Regions from separate parts of the Homo sapiens genome. Here region 2 is linked to region 1. Evidence: fine-mapped expression QTL. A gene starts in region 1. The other region holds a variant in brackets. All regions are shown on one strand. Distances are from middle to middle. Region 1 holds the start of DGKI (diacylglycerol kinase iota). Region 2 overlaps DGKI (diacylglycerol kinase iota).

The links. PIP is the estimated chance that this variant, and not a neighbour inherited with it, causes the effect.
Region 2: its variant is fine-mapped to the expression of DGKI in atrial appendage (GTEx, PIP above 0.99).

What each region holds. Positions count from the first base shown.
Region 1 is chr7:137,841,708-137,850,259 of GRCh38, forward strand. DGKI (diacylglycerol kinase iota) reads right to left here and starts at 5,267. Exons shown (of 33, transcript NM_001321708.2): 1 at 4,755-5,267. The coding sequence starts at 5,155. RefSeq lists an enhancer at 4,106-4,607 and silencers at 5,242-5,291, 5,776-6,070.
Region 2 is chr7:137,450,249-137,458,800 of GRCh38, forward strand. The region is part of intron 27 of DGKI (diacylglycerol kinase iota); the gene reads right to left. Among named protein-coding and RNA genes, the nearest start is that of PTN, 110 kb to the left of the region's middle. The variant G/A (reference allele first, on the strand shown) is at 4,535.

The DNA.
Region 1 (8,552 bases):
CCCAGGCCAGACGAACATACAGGGTGTAGACAGCCTGGGCTCTCACTAGGAACCCTCATTTCCTCAGACTAGAAAGTGCGGTGTTGGAAAGAGCTAGCTCTAGTCTAATTGAATTTGGCCCCATGAGGCAATGCTGTTGTTTGTTGCCACAGCAGAATTGAACACCAGCAAAGACCTCTCTTCAACTTCCCTATCCCCAGATTCCACAGGACCCAATAGTGTCAATCTCCCAGGTAAAAATCAAGCCTCTAAAAGATCACTTAGAGCAGAATAAGTACTCCGGACAGTGGTTGAATTGAAATCTTGCCCAGTGTGTATCCTAACTGAGGAAGTAACAGTCAGTATGTAAGTCATTACTGAGAAAGGAATTAAATTAGAACCAAGATCTTAATCTGATCCTACAGTCTTTAAAAATCTAACAGATGTGCAAAACACGGATAAAAACAAAATAAAATGGATTTACAAAAGAGGATACATACTGATATTCAGGAGAAAAGTTCCCCCATACACTATTGATTACAATGCAAGGAAGACCAATATCCATTTTATCCTACGTGGCTTCGAACTCCTCAAATATCTTTCTTGTAATAACACAACCTTACTTTGTGGGACAAAACACACGCAAAAAAACTACATTCTAATCATCAACCTATAAAGAATAACAGATCATTTTTTACATGGTTGCCCAAACTAAAGCGTTTAATACTCCTTGCTCCTATTTCTATCTCATACCAAAAACTTCCTTTAAGAAAGGTTTAGTATTACCAGCATGGTTTATGAGCAGAGAAACTAAATCATAGGCATCAACATCTCATAAGTAATGGTCTGCCCAGACATACTGACAAGCAAAATTGTACTTCATCACTCATTCTGTGCTGCCCAAAGAGGTACCGATGGGCCAGCTCTTCATTGGACCTAGGTTCGCCTACACAACCCTGTGTAAATTTTTTTTTAAGGCATATAAACCTCTAACGAGGATATCTTCATAGCAGGTGCATGTAGGTGGTTTTGTTCTCAGAAGCAAAACTGATATATTTGCAATCATGAATTTATATTCATTTATATTTCTGAGATAGTAGAAGAGTTCCCTAAAATTATATAGACAAAGGGCCACAAGCCAAAAAAAGGTATGCAATAATATATAATAATAATAATATGTAATGACCTGCCGTGTATTACAGATGAGGGGGAAGATAACTCACACTGCACACACGCATGCATACACATATGCACACATGGACAGAGAGCTCAAGCCTAAAATAAATGTTTAGGGAAGCAGCGTGATGCGGTCTAAAGAGACAGTCCTTTGGAGTCATCTGTGTTTTAAATTCTGCCTCCTGCCCAAGCTCTATGCCTCAAGTTCATTTTCAATAAAATGGAAATAGTCATAGTCACATCACAGGACTGTCACAAAGATTAATTAAGACAGAATATACAATAAGGCTTAGCCCAGTGCCTGTTGCATAGAAGACAATAAACATCAGCTACCTTCTCCTTCCCCTCCCTTATGTGTTTCTGAAGTCTTTTTTTTTTTATTGTACTGACTTATATGGGAATTCTTACAGCAGTTTAAAAAAAAAAACAGTTCCTACACAGTATATAGTCATTTACACATATGTATCTGTTGCAGCACCATAATTTGCAAAGAAAAACGAAGTAGTAATTTTAAAAGAAAAGTACCAGCTCACTCGCACTGCCTTTTCAAACCTTCAGCTTTACAGTCGACAGAGACTATTTGCTCTAGGGGTGCAGATTCTGAAATAAAGGAAAAAATTCTCATGGGAAAAATGGTTCTCAAAAAAAGCCAACACAGAATAGATAATGAGGGGAAATCTAGGAGTACAGAAAGCAGTTTATTTTACTTAACAAAGTAAAAGTCAAGCAAAATGAATAATCTGCCTCCAGAAATGGTTATTTAAAGGCTTTTTGTAAAGGGCTCTGGTTCCTAAAAAGACAGGAGTCACTGCATATGCCCACCCACTCCTCATTTATTTTTAAACCCTAGCTTATATGTTCCTTAGCAACAGAAGGAGCAGATGAGACCCCCCTACACACACACACACACACACACACACACACACACACACACCCTCTCTCCCAAAGCCCCCTTCTTTTTGCCTGTCAAGTTTCATTCCAAAAATACACATGTTCTTCAAAAGATATTTTTTGCCTACCTGCAAATCTCCACTCCTCCACCTCAAATGATCCCCCTCACGCAAGCAGCCATGCTCCATACCCTAACTCAGTCCTTTCACTCAGACTCCATTCTGTGAGGTCTTCCTGCCTCCTCTCCATAAGCTCCCACCAGACACTGTCCTCAGGTGCCCCCAGAAGGGAGGTGGTGTGGTCCCCACCAAGGAGCCGACCCTCAGCTCCTGACAAACCTGCTCTTTTTTTACACACCCTTCATCCATCCCACAGTAAAACAGCCAGCCCTGCTGCAGGAGTCCAGCACCAATGGCCGCCATGACGAGTGGGCAGGCCATTCACCATTACTCCAAAACAAATAAGTAACAGTGATCAAAATGGAGACAATTTCCTGTTACCCAGGCACAAACATGCTCCAGATGGAAGCACCTCCTTTTCACCATCTTTCCTCTGACTTTGAGACTGACTGGCCTGGTTTGGATGGGGAGGGTTTATGAGTTCAAAGATCAATTGTTTAGTCTTGGGGGCAAAATAGGGTGGCAATCCCCATATATTAGTCTGCATAAACATCGCCTGAGGAGCGTGTTAAAAATTCTCACCCACAGACAGTTTGATTCTGCAAGTCTAGGGTGGTGAGCACTTTTAACCAGACACCTGAGGTGACACTGATGCAGGAATTGGAGACTGTAAAGCTTTATTTAAAAGGAAATGATGTTCACGAAGTAGAATCCACCTCTATGTAAGGATTGTAAAGCAGACGCAATGTTATTATTCTTCTATAGAAACATGCTGCGTCTGTGTCCATGTCTATGCTTGTGTGTGTACACACTTACACGTGCATGTGTGAGCATGCAACTCAGAAAGCCAAAACCCCACACAACATACATTTTAAAAAAGGAGGCTCAGAGAATGACCCCTGACAAGAGGCAAGCTGAAATGATTTCCCTTGCAAACTCTGGCTTTGTCTTCCTACCCAGTGAGGACTCTGATGAATACCAATAAGCCAGGAGCAGCCTACACTGTGCTTCATGTAATCACCACCCCCTTCCAACTCACAGCTCCTAAATTAGGCTGAATGTAGTCCCTGTTCCCCCAGGGGCCAGACGGGCCATCATAACTAGGAAGTAGAACTGCCAGTGTCCTAGCATACCTCCCTAGAGCTACCCCCTCCCCACCATCTGTCTATTTTTAGAAACCAAAGTATAAAAAGAAAGATCCATTTGGACCTGATCTGTGTGAGTAACTAAGAGAACAACTCAGGTGGGGAACTCCCTCAGCGCACAGCGAACAAAATGCATGGGAGGAACGCAGAAGCAACAACCTCACCAGGAAGGCGTTTTAGGAGTCATCAGAAGTCAACACTTAGACACAGAGCACATGCCCTAGTGACTGTGGCCTCCAGGCCAGGCGATGTCTATGGGGATCCCAATTATTCACACACCTGCCCCCATAAATAAAACACACCCTCCCAAACCCACACACCTCTGTCATCTGCGTTTGCTTACATAACAGCACATGGTGTGACAGGCTTAATACTTTATATGGTTTTTGGGAAGGGAACACTAACTCAGAAAGAGTAGGGTTACAAGAATGTTTTCACTGACCCCTTTTCCAGAAACCCTCTGAGCTCCAGCAAGTGTACATCTTTGTAAACCTATGCTTGCATATCACCTCGACCTTTAACATCGATAAGCAGTAGGGTTAGTGTCAACAACTCTCCAAACCTGTCAATGTCTTTATTCTTGCCTGCGGAAGGGAGGGGTGAGAGAGACCTTAATAAATCCTAATTCCTCGTTGTTGGATTCTAATACAATGTGGGGTTATCTTTTATCCTAATTTAAAGGCCATTGATCCCACACTGTCCTTGTCTTACACATACACTCATCCTTAGGTGCAAATATGGTCCCCACTCTCACCTTCACCCCTAGCTTGCCAGCGGGCTCCCCACACCCTCCTCCAGCCAGGAGAGAGGCAAGGAGCACGCAGGCATGGAGCCCCCATAACCAGTGGCGCATCTACAGACATAAACCCACTCTTCCTTCATGGGGGATTTCGAGGCAGGTCCAACTTCCATAAGGATTTCTCTTCAGTGTAGTGCTATTCTTTTCTGCCTGTCGGAGTGATCTCAGCTGTCAAGTTAGTGCCAAAGGTTCATCCAGCGAAATCTGGAAGGTGGGGGAAGGGTGGTTGAAGATGACACCTGCTTAGGGGCAACTTTGACGACTTCTCTTAAGAAAACTAAGCATCACTGAGTCTGCAACCCTTTCTCTCTCTCTCTTTCTCTCTCTCTCTCTCTCTCTCTCTCTCACACACACACACACACACACACACACACACACACACACACAGACAAAATTTCTGTTGCTCTGACCTTAGGGACCCAGTGCTTCTCTCCTGCCACAGGGGAAAGCAGGCGTTGCTGCCCTCCAGCCTGGAATGATAGGATGGGGAGAAGACAGACATCCCCGGGAGGAGAGGGGGAAAGGGGGAAGGAGAGGCGTGGAAACAGAGAGGTGCCCAACTCCGCGGAAGCGCCCCTTGCTGGGTAGAAGAGTGGGTCTCCCGCCGCGGCGCACCTGTCTCGGCTGCCGGCTCCCCGCACCTACCTGTACGAGACCTGCTTCCGGAAAGTTAAGTTCCTCAGCTTCTCCTCCAGCGCTTCGTCCTTCTCCTTCTGGCCGGCGGCCGCGGGCTCGTCCAGGGCAGCGGCCCCCGCCGCCGCGGCTGACCCTGCGCCCCGCGGGTCCGCGCCGCCCTCGGCGCCCAGGCAGCAGCTCCCGGCGCCGCTTCCGCTGCTGCTGCTGCCGCCCGTCGCCCCTTTCTCCTCTCCCGCCGAGGAGCTGGGGTTCATGGCGCCCGCTCCGGCGGCCGCGGAGGGAGCGCAGGCGGCGCCGCTGCAGGGGCCGGGCGGGCTGGCGGCGGCGGCGGCGGCGGCTGCAGGAGCGCGGGCAGGTCCGCGCGCCGCTGGCAGGGGCAGCAAATGGCAGCCCCTTCCCGCAGCATCCATCCGCGGCTGCACCGCACCGGGGCATTGTGGGAAACTCCGCTCACTCCCCCGCCCCGGCCAATCAGAGGCCGCCGCTCCCCGCCTCCCGCGCCCTCCCGCGCCGGCCCGCACCCTCCAGCCCCGCCGGCCTCTTCCTAAATCCCGAGCGAAAGCCCAAGCTGAACATGAACTCTGCCCGGAGGCGACGGGCTGCGGCGGAGGGGGAGAGAGAGGAGGACAGGCTGCGACCCCGGGCTGGGGACGCCAGGGCAGGGACAGCGAGCATCAGGAAGGAGAGCGTCCGGGGAACTCGAGTGGCCGCGCCCTGGGTCCTGCACCGTGAGGCTGGGGGGACCAGGACCGGCGGGCGCCCACCTTGGTCCTGAGCCCAGCTGCCGACGCTGGGCCAGCACCCTCTCCACCGCCGCCCTCCAGTGAGCAGAGCTGGGCTCAGGCAGCAGCCCCTGGGCGCGGGAAGGTAGCGGGAGCTGCATTTAGGGGAGGGGGGAGGTAGCAGGAGCTCCGCCAGTGGGAACCTTGGAGTGAATTCGTCGGCGGGTGCCAAGTCGAAGCGCCGACCTCCTGTCTCTGGACTGGGGCCCGGACCCCTGCGTCCCCAAACTGCGTCCCCGCCTTGCTCGTCGCCCGGTGCCTTCCTTAGGCGCAGCAGACCCTCGGTAAACAGCGGTTAATTCGATGGAATCGGATCACAGGGCCCTCGGTGAAGCAGAAAGGCGGAGGAAATCCAGGAGGCAGAAGTGAGGACCCTGGCGCCTGGCGCCGCTGCGTTGTTCGTATAAGAAGAGGCATCCCGGAAGGGGCTTCAAACCACTTAGGACCGACTGCTGAAACGAATCCAAGCTTGTGGTGTCTGCAGAATTTAACTGTCCGCCTCAACCCCAGTTTTTGTTTCTAAGATTATCGAAAACTGTGCGGTTTGAGTGATGTGCTACAAAGTGTTTAAAACAGATTGTTTCCCAAATTAGGGGTTTCCACACAAGAAATCGCTGCTGTCGGCAAACACAGGAACTATCTATGGTTAAGACAAGGTGGTGTTCGTAACCAAACTATAAACCTACATATACGAGGTGGTAAGAGAACCAGACCAATGAACAGTTTCAGGCTGGCGTGGTGTGCCCGTGAACAAAGAATTGTAATACTGGCAAAAATCTAAATTGCTTTCTTTCCCTTTATTTTCTCATCACTAAAATTAGGAAAATGAACAGATATGTCAAATCTCTTCTAACACCCATGTTCTGTAACTCTCCTCGTATGTACCTTATAATAAGACAAAGGTAAAGACATTTCCATGTGCAGCGAGGAAAAGTAATAATAAAAATTAAAACAACTAGCAAGTATGAAGCCCTCTTTTTATACGGTATGTGCTGTATAAGCACTTCCCTCATCCACCTCTATGTTTTCACAGCACCTCTCAAGGGCTTGGACACGTGCAAATGCAAACTGGCAAAGCCAGGAGTCAAGCCAGGCTGCTCAGTGGCCTTTGTGCTTCACCCCAGTTTAATGCACCCGTCTTCAGAAGGGACATCGTGTATTAGGTGCTTCAACACAAGATCCACGAATATCTCGTACATCCCTAAAATCAAGCAAATGTCATCTGAACCCAATTACTGGGACAGCCCCCTCATTACTCCCACTTACTTTTAGCCGTATCTTCCCCAATCCAATCTCAAGTGTGAGCCCCAAAATACTTCTGATTTTTCACGCCTCCACTTAAAAATCTTTTGATTATGTCATATTGCCGTTAGGGTAAAGTTCAAACAACTCAGCTGATTTTGAGGGCTACATTGGTGGGTGGTGGAGTACTGCCCGCTTTCCCTTCATACTGTCATGACAGTGAGGTTCTGAACTGTTCTTTGTGCAAACCCCACACGCTCTCTGCTCTCTCCATTCCCATTTTTGCACGTGTGAGTCTGCTGTCTCCTCTTCTTTGCTTCTCCTTTTCCTAAGATTTGCCAAGCCAACTACTCTACACCTCCATCGGATTTTAGTTTACATGTCTCTCCCCATGTTTCTCCCCACTAGAAGCCTCCGTTGATGATCCCTTTCTAGACTGTGATGGACGTACCTCCCATAGCTCCCATTGCACCATTGTACTAAACTTGGACCACTGCAACTGTCATGTGTCTATTTATCCCACATGTATATAAACGCTATATGTTGTTTATCACTATATCTTCAGTAATAATAAACAGGTAACATAATTGCATAAGTGTGTATATCATAGACCATCATGAAGTGTTTATTGACTGAGAAAAGAAATATACATCGTTGTGAACATAATGAAAGACGTCATTTTTCAGAACAAACAGTTTGATAATAGATGGTATTGATGAGGGGGTATGAAAACAAATGCTTCCTCAAATTTTTGATATACTTTAACTAGTAAAATCTCTCTGATGGTAAATTTTACAATATCTATCCATGTTTGAAATGCATGACCTAATTAACTAAGCAATTTCACTTCTAAAAATTCGTCCTCTGATATACTTGTAGGTATACACAAGGATTTAAGATTGAAAACAACCTAAATTGTTATTCATCCAAACAATGGAATTCTCTGGAACTGTCAAGATACATAAGGCAAGTTAACATTCATTAATATAAAACAATCTCAAATATATAATGTTAACAAAAAAAGAAAAACAATGCTCAGAGTATTTAGTAGTATGCTATCATTTATGGAGAAAAGAAGATCTATAGAGATATAATATTTCTGGAAGGATACATAAGAAAATGGTCACAGTGAAGCGGAGTTGAATGGCTCTAGCTAGAGTCTTGAGGTTTTGCCTGATTCAATAAGTACATGCCAACAGAATGTCTCCCAGCCTATCAGAAAAGCCAGCTGGACCTCTCAAGTGTGTATTTATATGTTTAAATAGTGTATTAATGGGTTGCTAATCAGAGGAATATTGGGTTTTTAAAAAAACAGTCATTGAACATTAACTCTAACTTAAGACAGAGCGACATTTGGGAAGCACAAATAATTCCAGCAAAAGACAAATGAATTCTGTTGTGGGGTGATCTCCTGAGAAGTTACTTAAAATATTAGTCATTCTCTTAGACAATTTATTTTCCTTTCTATTTTTCAACGATCACCAAGTAACCTTGTAATTATTCATCCTGCTTCTTAGTTTCCTTGACACTAAAAAGTGGAATCCTTGAAAATGGGTCAAAAGCATTCTAATCACAAAAATAAATTGACATTCTGCTTTGAAACTGCATTGCATGTGATTTTGAGTAACATAAGTACATAACCAAGAAAATGAGCATCTCTGGGTATATTGAAACATCCAGTGTCTGGACCTGGAAGTATAATCTCAGACCTCAGATGGACAATATTTCCATGACTGGGCCCAAAGCCATGCCCCATTTGGTGAGCTTCCTAACTCACCTTTCT
Region 2 (8,552 bases), 390 kb before region 1:
TGCATTCTTAAAAAATGCTAAGAGAGTAGATGCTAAGTGCTCTCACAATAAAATTTATAACTATGCATGGTAATGCATACGTTAATTAGCTACATAATTAATGGTTATATATATTTCACATCATGTTGTATACAACACATAATAATTTTATGTCAATTTTAAAATTATTTTTAAAGAACTAGAATAATAGCTGGGCATGGTGGCTCACCCCTGTAATCCCAGCACTTTGGGAGGCCAAGGCGGGCAGATCACCTGAGATCAGGAGTTTGACACCAGCCTGGCCAACATGGTGAAACCCTGTCTCTACTTAAAAAAATACAAAAATTAGCCAAGCGTGGTGGCACGCGCCTATAATCCCAGCTACTTGGGAGGCTAAGGCAGGAGAATCAGTTGAACCCAGGAGGCAGAGGTTGCAGTGAGCCAAGATTGCACCGTTGCACTCCTGCCTGGACAACAAGAGCGAAACTCTGTCTCGAAAAAATAAAAAATTAAAATAATATATAGTTACATATTTTTAATTATATACATATCTTTATATATACACATATATATATATTTTACTTTGGATTTACTCTTCCATGAATCTTGATCTGAATATTTGCTGGTGAAAGTACCCTTCCCAATATTAACCCTGCTTATGAGAATATCCATATTGTCTCTAAAATAAAGACAACTTTTCAAACTAGCATACACAGAGAAACTTGGAAAAAAAGGGAAGCTCTTGGAAAACAAAATGCTATTTTAGATAGAATATTATGTAATTTAACTGGTAAAAATTAAAATATTTTCATACTGAAACCAGCACAGTCATATTATGTATCCAAAAGCAAAAGTCCCTTGAATTTTTAAAGTCACAAACTTCGAAAACAAACAAACAAACAAAAAATAAAACAGGACAAAACAGATATCTGTGTTTGAGGCAGTCAGCTTCAGACAAGTCTCCAGGTTCCCAAGGAAGTAAGTTTGTTCCTCTGGAACGGAGTGTTGTCATGGCAGTCTGAATATATGAAATTACCCAACTAAACACAGCTATAATATCTTGGAATGAATCATTTTATTAGATTAATATATAGAGATATCACAAATCAGGGAACAAGACATTCAGCACATATTGGCTAGTGGCTGCTGCATTACAGACAGCACTCTATCTAAACTCAAGCATCTCTAAGAAACTCAAAGATACTTTTTTTAGATTGCCTTCAATCCACAAATTTTCCTTCAAAGCCTTTTATCTTTCTAGTAGATCGATTACAAGGCTTAAGGGCACTGAAAAATGTGCCCAGTTTTCTACCAGCAAAAGAGCAATACATAAAAGCAAATGAGTATTATATTTGGGAAGGCAAAGGACTTTATAAAGTATTGCACCTCTTATGATGTTTTATCGTTTTTAGTCAATAAACCTGGAAATGAAATAATGGGTGTCACGACTATTTCAGTCTTTATATCTGGTATAATATACTTTACAATAGGTTTTAGATATGTGCATTTTCTTGGTAAGCTCCATGAAATGATCAAAACTTACAAGCTGATCCTAATACAATATCCTTTTCATTTCAATAACACTGTCCAGTTTTCTTTCTTTTTATTTTTTTAGACTCTATGCATATTTTGCTTTATTTATTTTTTTTCATCATCTCATGGCTTTAATTTAAAAGCACCCATGGCCTTCCTACTTGGCCCTTCCTCAGAATGGCTACATCATTTCCTTCTTTGGAGATAGGATGTCAATAGATTATCCATTAGTCTTTCCTAAAGAACAGAGGATAGATTAGATAAATATTGGGGATGCCTCTATATGGGACTCTTACTTTCTGTAAAGAAACATCTACAAATGAATGTCTATCTCTATTCCGTGTCCCCAACACATATACCTTCTACTCAGCACTGCTAAACCATCACCTGGTGGGGAGTTGGCCAAGGGATGGGGCCACCACATAGAGATGGGCTTAAGATAAACATGCAGGACAGGTGTGACAGCAGAGTTTAAATAGGCACAAGAGCATAGATTCATATTCTGAAAACACTCAGCAGTGGGATTCCCCAGGACCACAGACTATGGATGGAGTAGAAGAGGTGGGAGACACTCATCCAATTCACGGGCCTGACTGAAATAGCCAAGGCCCCTTCATTTTCTGGCTACCATCCTGCAATAAGAAAAGGAAACAAAGCGGGAATGCTGGGCAAGCTAGACACCGTGCTCCTTCTACACCCTACACAGCACACTACAAATAAGTACACCACTCCTTATTGTGAAGTTCTTGTTGGGGAACAAAGCAGCACACGTATGTCCACACACTGAAAACAACTCACTATATGCGTATTTTATTCAATTTCCCTTTCATGCCTGTCTTTCCTCTTTACTGTCTAGCTTTGGGGATGAGAACCACAGCAAAAAGACCACTTTCTATAAACATCAGGTGATGATCCATCCTACTTAGGAAGGGAAAGAGAAGCTCTTAATGTCAGCTCTGAATGTTCTTTCTCTGTCGTTTCAGTCATTTACTTGTATTTCTTTTCCCCTCTCCTGACCACAGCCCTGAGAGTTTCCTGGACTTTCTCATTTACCTTTGTCACAGTTGGGTGGAATCCAGTCTTTCCTGGATAGAACAGCCTCCCATCATGTGCTCACACCTTTTTCCTATGGTGAACATGTAAGAATGTTCATGCCTGGTCAGCATTCCCCAGGTTCCACTTTCCTCCCTGCTTCTTGAGCCATGATGCTTGTCCTCTGTTACACTCCTACGTAGTCCCGAATGAAAACCGATTTCCCAGTTGGGCATTCTCTCCAGGCACATTTCAACGGTCTGCATCACAACTGCAGAAACCTCATCTTTTTCTTCTGTTTTACCGTGAAGTGGTGATGCTACACAAATTCCATCTATTTCCTAAAACTGTTGGTAGACAAGAATCTTCATTCAAATCAAGTGAGCAAAGGTATGATTTACTGTGCTGTGAAAGCATGGCTGCAGATTATCATCTCTGTGCAATAGCTTTCTTCCCTTGAGCATCTCTCAAGGGTGCATTGCCTATCCTGGAGAACTAGTTTGCCAGGCCTATGACATCATTTGGAGGACCCAAGGGAGAAAGAATGAGACCATGGATCTGTGTGACATCTTCACCATTATCACTCTAGCCCCAAAGCATCTCTAATTAGGTAAAATAGGACCAGAAATCCCACAGCACTGCAAATCTCCATCGACTACATAATCCTCTCTTTGTTTGCTTTTGGTCCTTCTAATTGTGAATATTTCTCTTAAAACAGTGAACAAAGCACATACAGTAAAAGAGAGCAGGCGAGAATGAGAGTGAGAGATGAAAGTTACAGCAAACACACAGAGTGGCATTGAAATGAGAGAAAGACAAACACATTCTCTATTCAAGTGGTCACAAACCCATTCAGGGAATGCCAAGCAGCCTCAAAGGTAACATTCATGACCAACAGAGGGAAGGGGTGCAGAAAGAGCAAAATGAAAGGAAGAAGACAGAGATGAGCATTTGTGTGGAGGGAAGGAAATCATTTCCAGCATGTAAATAATAAAGGCTGCTTGGTGAGTTCCTCATTTGATACAAATTTCTACCAATTCCCTTTATTATCATAATTTCCCAGTCTTTAAGACTCACCTACCCAAATATATGCCTTGATGACCCCCATGTGAGCTGGGCTTGAAATATCTTGTTTTTTTTTTTTTTAAATAGATTCCTATATTTAGATATATTTGGCTTTTAGAAAATAGCACTGTTCAGGTTGGGGAGATATTGGTCAAAGGACGTATAATTACAGTTCAGCAGACTAAGTTCAAGAGATCCATTGTACAACATGGTGACTTTGGTTAATGATGATATAATATATTCTTAAAAAATGCACAGAGAGTGCATATTAAGTGTCCTCACCACAAAAATAACTGTGTGATGTAATGCATTCATTGATCAGCCAGGTTTAGCCATTCAACAATGTATACGTACTTCAAAAAATCATGTTGTACACAATAAATATATGCAATTAGTCAATTAAAAAGTCTAAAAACTAATTTTAAAAAAACGCTGTTTTACCTTTAGCATTTACAATTCCATACTTTCTGTATACCCTCCTCAGTTTGCTGAGTCGCCTGAATGTCTTTCGAGTATAAAATTTTACTGCCACCTACTGTTAACTTTTAAGAACTGCAACAAAATGAGGGCAAAGCAGTTTGAAATGTGAGAGATTGAGGAAGAATGGGCGACAGTGGACACAGAAAAGAAATAGATAAAATAAAGAGATGAAGTTGGAGAAAATAATACTTCACAAGCTTATTTATCCTGACGATGTAGCCATCACATTTTAGCATTCTGTAGACAAAATGAAAAAAGAAATAATTAAACCCAGCACAGTTGTGAAGCAATAAAGGATGGGTGGCTTGCCTTTAGAAATCAGTCTCTGCAATATAGTTGCCAGCCCACTTTCTAAAAAAAAGGGTGAAGAAATAGAAAAGGCACATTATTCTAAAATCCAGACAACGGAGACATACCCGGAGAGCCAGGAGGAAGGACCCTTTAG[G/A]AAAAGCCAAGCTGCCAGCTTTATCCTAGTGACTCTGGGAACCCCGGCCAACAGCTTCTGTTGAGACATAATCCATCTGGATTTTGTAAATGTGGACTTCTTTTTTTTCTTTTTAAGCATAAGTTGAAACATGAGGGAGCTCTGGATTGTGAAGGCAAGTCACATGAGAGCCACGTTTAGTCTTAGCACGTGGGGCTTATAAGCAAGGCACCTCACTTATCTCGTGATCCCGGATATGCAATATCTCCCTGTGGTAATTGAGTAAGGGCTCAGCCACAGCTACTTATTTTTAGGAAATCCAAATAAGGACTTCTGATCCCAGTTTTAGAAAATGGGAGACAAAACTAGGCGGGGTTGGAAGCTGGTTTGGCACCTCTGAAGATAACTGTAACATACCCCAGCAGCTTTCTGACAACATCTCCTCCCACCCCACCCTTCTCAGGAGAGGGTGGGAACAGAATCTAAACATTGTCTGCTTCCTCCTGACTCTAATGTGTCTAAGGACAAGAGAGTTTCTCAGTTATAGATCAGTTCGAGGAGCTCTGTGAAAAAAAATATAATGAATGCAGATAAATCATAGTAATATTGAAAACAAGAAATTAAAATGGGCTCGACAGACTGTGAGAATAATTCAGTGACTCCAGTGTTAGATATTAAGAACTGCTATGTACTTAACTCTATTCCAAGAGCTGTGGGAGGTACTTAACTTAAAACATTCCATTCCCACCTTTAAGGAGCTTGTAAGGGAGTCATGGAGTAAGACCAGCATCTCACAGAGTATTGGAGAAAACTGTTGGAGGATTGTTGTTCTTATGTGTGATGCCTGGCACAATCATCCAGAAAAGTTAAAAAAAAAAGGGGGGGGGGCGGGGAATGTGGTCTCCATCTCCCTGAATTCCAAATAAGTAGTGCTAGCATGGTGTGGAGATATCTCTTGTTCTGATCTTCTTAGAGTAGGGGGTTCAGAGGGCCCCAGAAGTACCGCAGAGAAGTCCCATGCCCGATATGACTCCCCAGCCACCACCATTTCCAGTGATAATATGACATCCCTCTCACATTCCTCAACTCCACACTGAACATGGTAAGTGATTACTGCTCCACATCCCAGCAACTTGAGATTTGCAAGCGAATTTTTTTGAAAATATTTCAAAATGATCACTCTTTCACACTTTAGATCTGTTTAATCAAATTATTCACCTAAGACAGACACACTGAGAAAACAAGAGTGTTGGTGGAAGTTGGAGAATGCAGCCGGGGACCAACAGTTTATTTTGGAGGTGAATGCCTGGGAAACAATTCTTCCTTGCCACTCTACCTACCACTGTGCTCACCAACAGTGCCTACAACTTCCTATACCGACCATACTTACCTTTTACTTTCTCGCTTGTGAAATACCAACATTTCTCCAAGTCAGGCATTCAGGTGTGTCTTTATTATTTTGATCTGTGAATTCCCTGGATCCAGCATACTTATATTCAAATTTGAAATATATAAATGGAACCCACAGCCTAACAAAAATGGTCAACATTTTACATATTATTTTGTTATCACTATTATTTTGTTATAATTTGATAAGTACTGGGTTTAGTATAGCAATATAAATAGACACGTATTTATTTTGGTTTGACAAAGCACCTTTTCTATCAAGGGATGTTCTATGAATGGAACATCCTTCTATTCATCCCAAAAGCCTGCCTTGTTGGATGCCTACCATTTTAGGTATGGTGCAAAGTGCTATGGAGACAGAGGGAGAAATGCACAGTTTGGTCATCCAAGGAACTCACATGCTTTAAAGAGGGATCCAATCAATACTGCCTCACATTCACAGTATTCCTGAAGTGTGAATAAATATGGCTGCCAGCTTTTACAAATGTAAAAAGAGAGCCACTTAACACTAATATTTCCTCATACTCTAATCATTGGCAAAACTTGGAACTCATGGCAATGAAGGGCGAGAATTTCCTGGGATTATTTCAAATAAAATGGATGTTTAACATTAAAGTAAGTTTGTTTGTTTTTCTTTCAATGTCAGTCAAAATAAGATCTGGTACACAGGGAACTCTGTTCTAACTCTTCCACTAACTGAACTTGGAAAGGTAAATTTAAATCCATTTCCTCCGAGTGGTTTAGGGCCTCCATATGCATAACTGATTGAGGAACAATTCTAAAAATAACAAAGGCAAATCTCTTATTAAATATTTCACACACCCATAGGAATAGAGTGTTATTATGTGCTTGCCAAATAGAGTAATTCACCAAGTCATTTCAAACTCAAGGTAAGTCAAGAAGAAAAAGAAGAAGGAAGACATATGTCAGCTATCCTGTATTTTTCCAGCTGGAATGAGTATCCGGGGTGAGCAAGATTGAGCCCAGTCAAAGGTAAGCAGGGATGTCAAAGGTAGGTAGAAACGGGACCCAACTATCTCAGTGAAACAGATGCCAGGAGCCATCTTTATCCTGACAGCACTGATTTCATCTCTAAGATATATTTCAGCAAAACCTGCATCCCACTAAGAAGATTAATTTTCTCCCGCTTATCTGATTGTGAAGCTGAAAGAATATTTCCAAAATCAAAATCGCTGTCCAACAGTCTGTCTTCCTGTTGAGAACCTGAAACTTTCACAATAAGCACAATTACCCTTTTTATTAGGTTCAGGCCATAACCTAATGTTCCCAGAAGAAACTGAATAAAGAAAATAGTTGAGGACCAGAGGGGAATGATGTTGTTTCTCCCATAATCAGCTTAGAACATCTGAGTTTTCAGAACACAGGAGGTCTCCGGGCTTTATCTTCTCGATATAGTGATTCAGAATTGCAATTGCAGACTATACTAAAAAGGCCAGTTTTTCAGTTTAAAGTATTATTAGGTATCTTGGTATCTCCAAATAATTTCTCGGTTGTCCAAATTTCCTTGAGCACACATAGCATATGGAGAGGTTGAACTACCATTGAATGTTTTCCATTATTTGAGAGATATTTCTGGTTTACACAATGAGGAAGGACAAATACTTATCTGTTCACATGTAAAAAATGAAGAAAATACACATAGAACACTTAATAAGCCTATTTTTTTTCTTTGAGGCTGACATTTTCGTTAATTCTTTAAATATTCATCATTTCTAGGGTCAAAAAAGTTAAATCTAAAAAAAAAAGCAGCAAATTATATTTCCTCTTGTTTCCAGAACACTCTATGCATATATCCATAATAGCACTTATTAGAAGGAACTTTAATAATTGGTTTAATATTTCCCCTTTAAATATAAGCTCTTCAAGGGCAATAATTATTTCTTCTTTAGTTGTATATCTTCAGTGCCTGACTTCAGTCACTGAAGGTGCCCAATACTGATTTGTTCAATACACGATTGACTGAATTGTTTACCCTATTTCTTAGGGTAATCACAATGAAATCACAAATCAGACCTCACACATTATAGTTAAACATTTGATAGCATTATCTTTCCTTGAAGACAGAAATCCTCTGCCAATCATAAAAACCCATTAGCCTTGTGCAGCTGATCGGGTACCAGATACCTGCCTAGACACAATTATCTGGATTGAATATCTACCCTCGGTGTGGTTCACTACACTGTTTCCCCTGTGTCTTAGTCTAGTGGCAAGATATTATTTGTGTGACAGTCCATTTTAGTTCTTTCAGGACTAGGACTTGGGGACATTGAGAAAAAGTACAACTCTTTCAGTCATTTGGGGGTTTCTTACGAACTACAAAATCTAAGAACCGGAAAAAGGTTACTCTGATTCAGAAACAAAAGCAGTGTCTCCTAGACCCTTTACCTGCCTGCTCTTAACCCACCTGACTCAGAGGTGAGTCAGTCCTTTTCTCAAAGAAAACTTAAGAAGAATATATCAGAGTTTTCATTCCATGCCTATTTTCTTTTCTCATAGATCCTCAAGTGGCAAAATTCTTCCTTACAACTCAAATAGATTTGGTCTGCTAAAATTTAAGTAAATTCCCTCTCTATTAATCTTCTGCCAAATGAAATATAGTCTTGTCACTAAT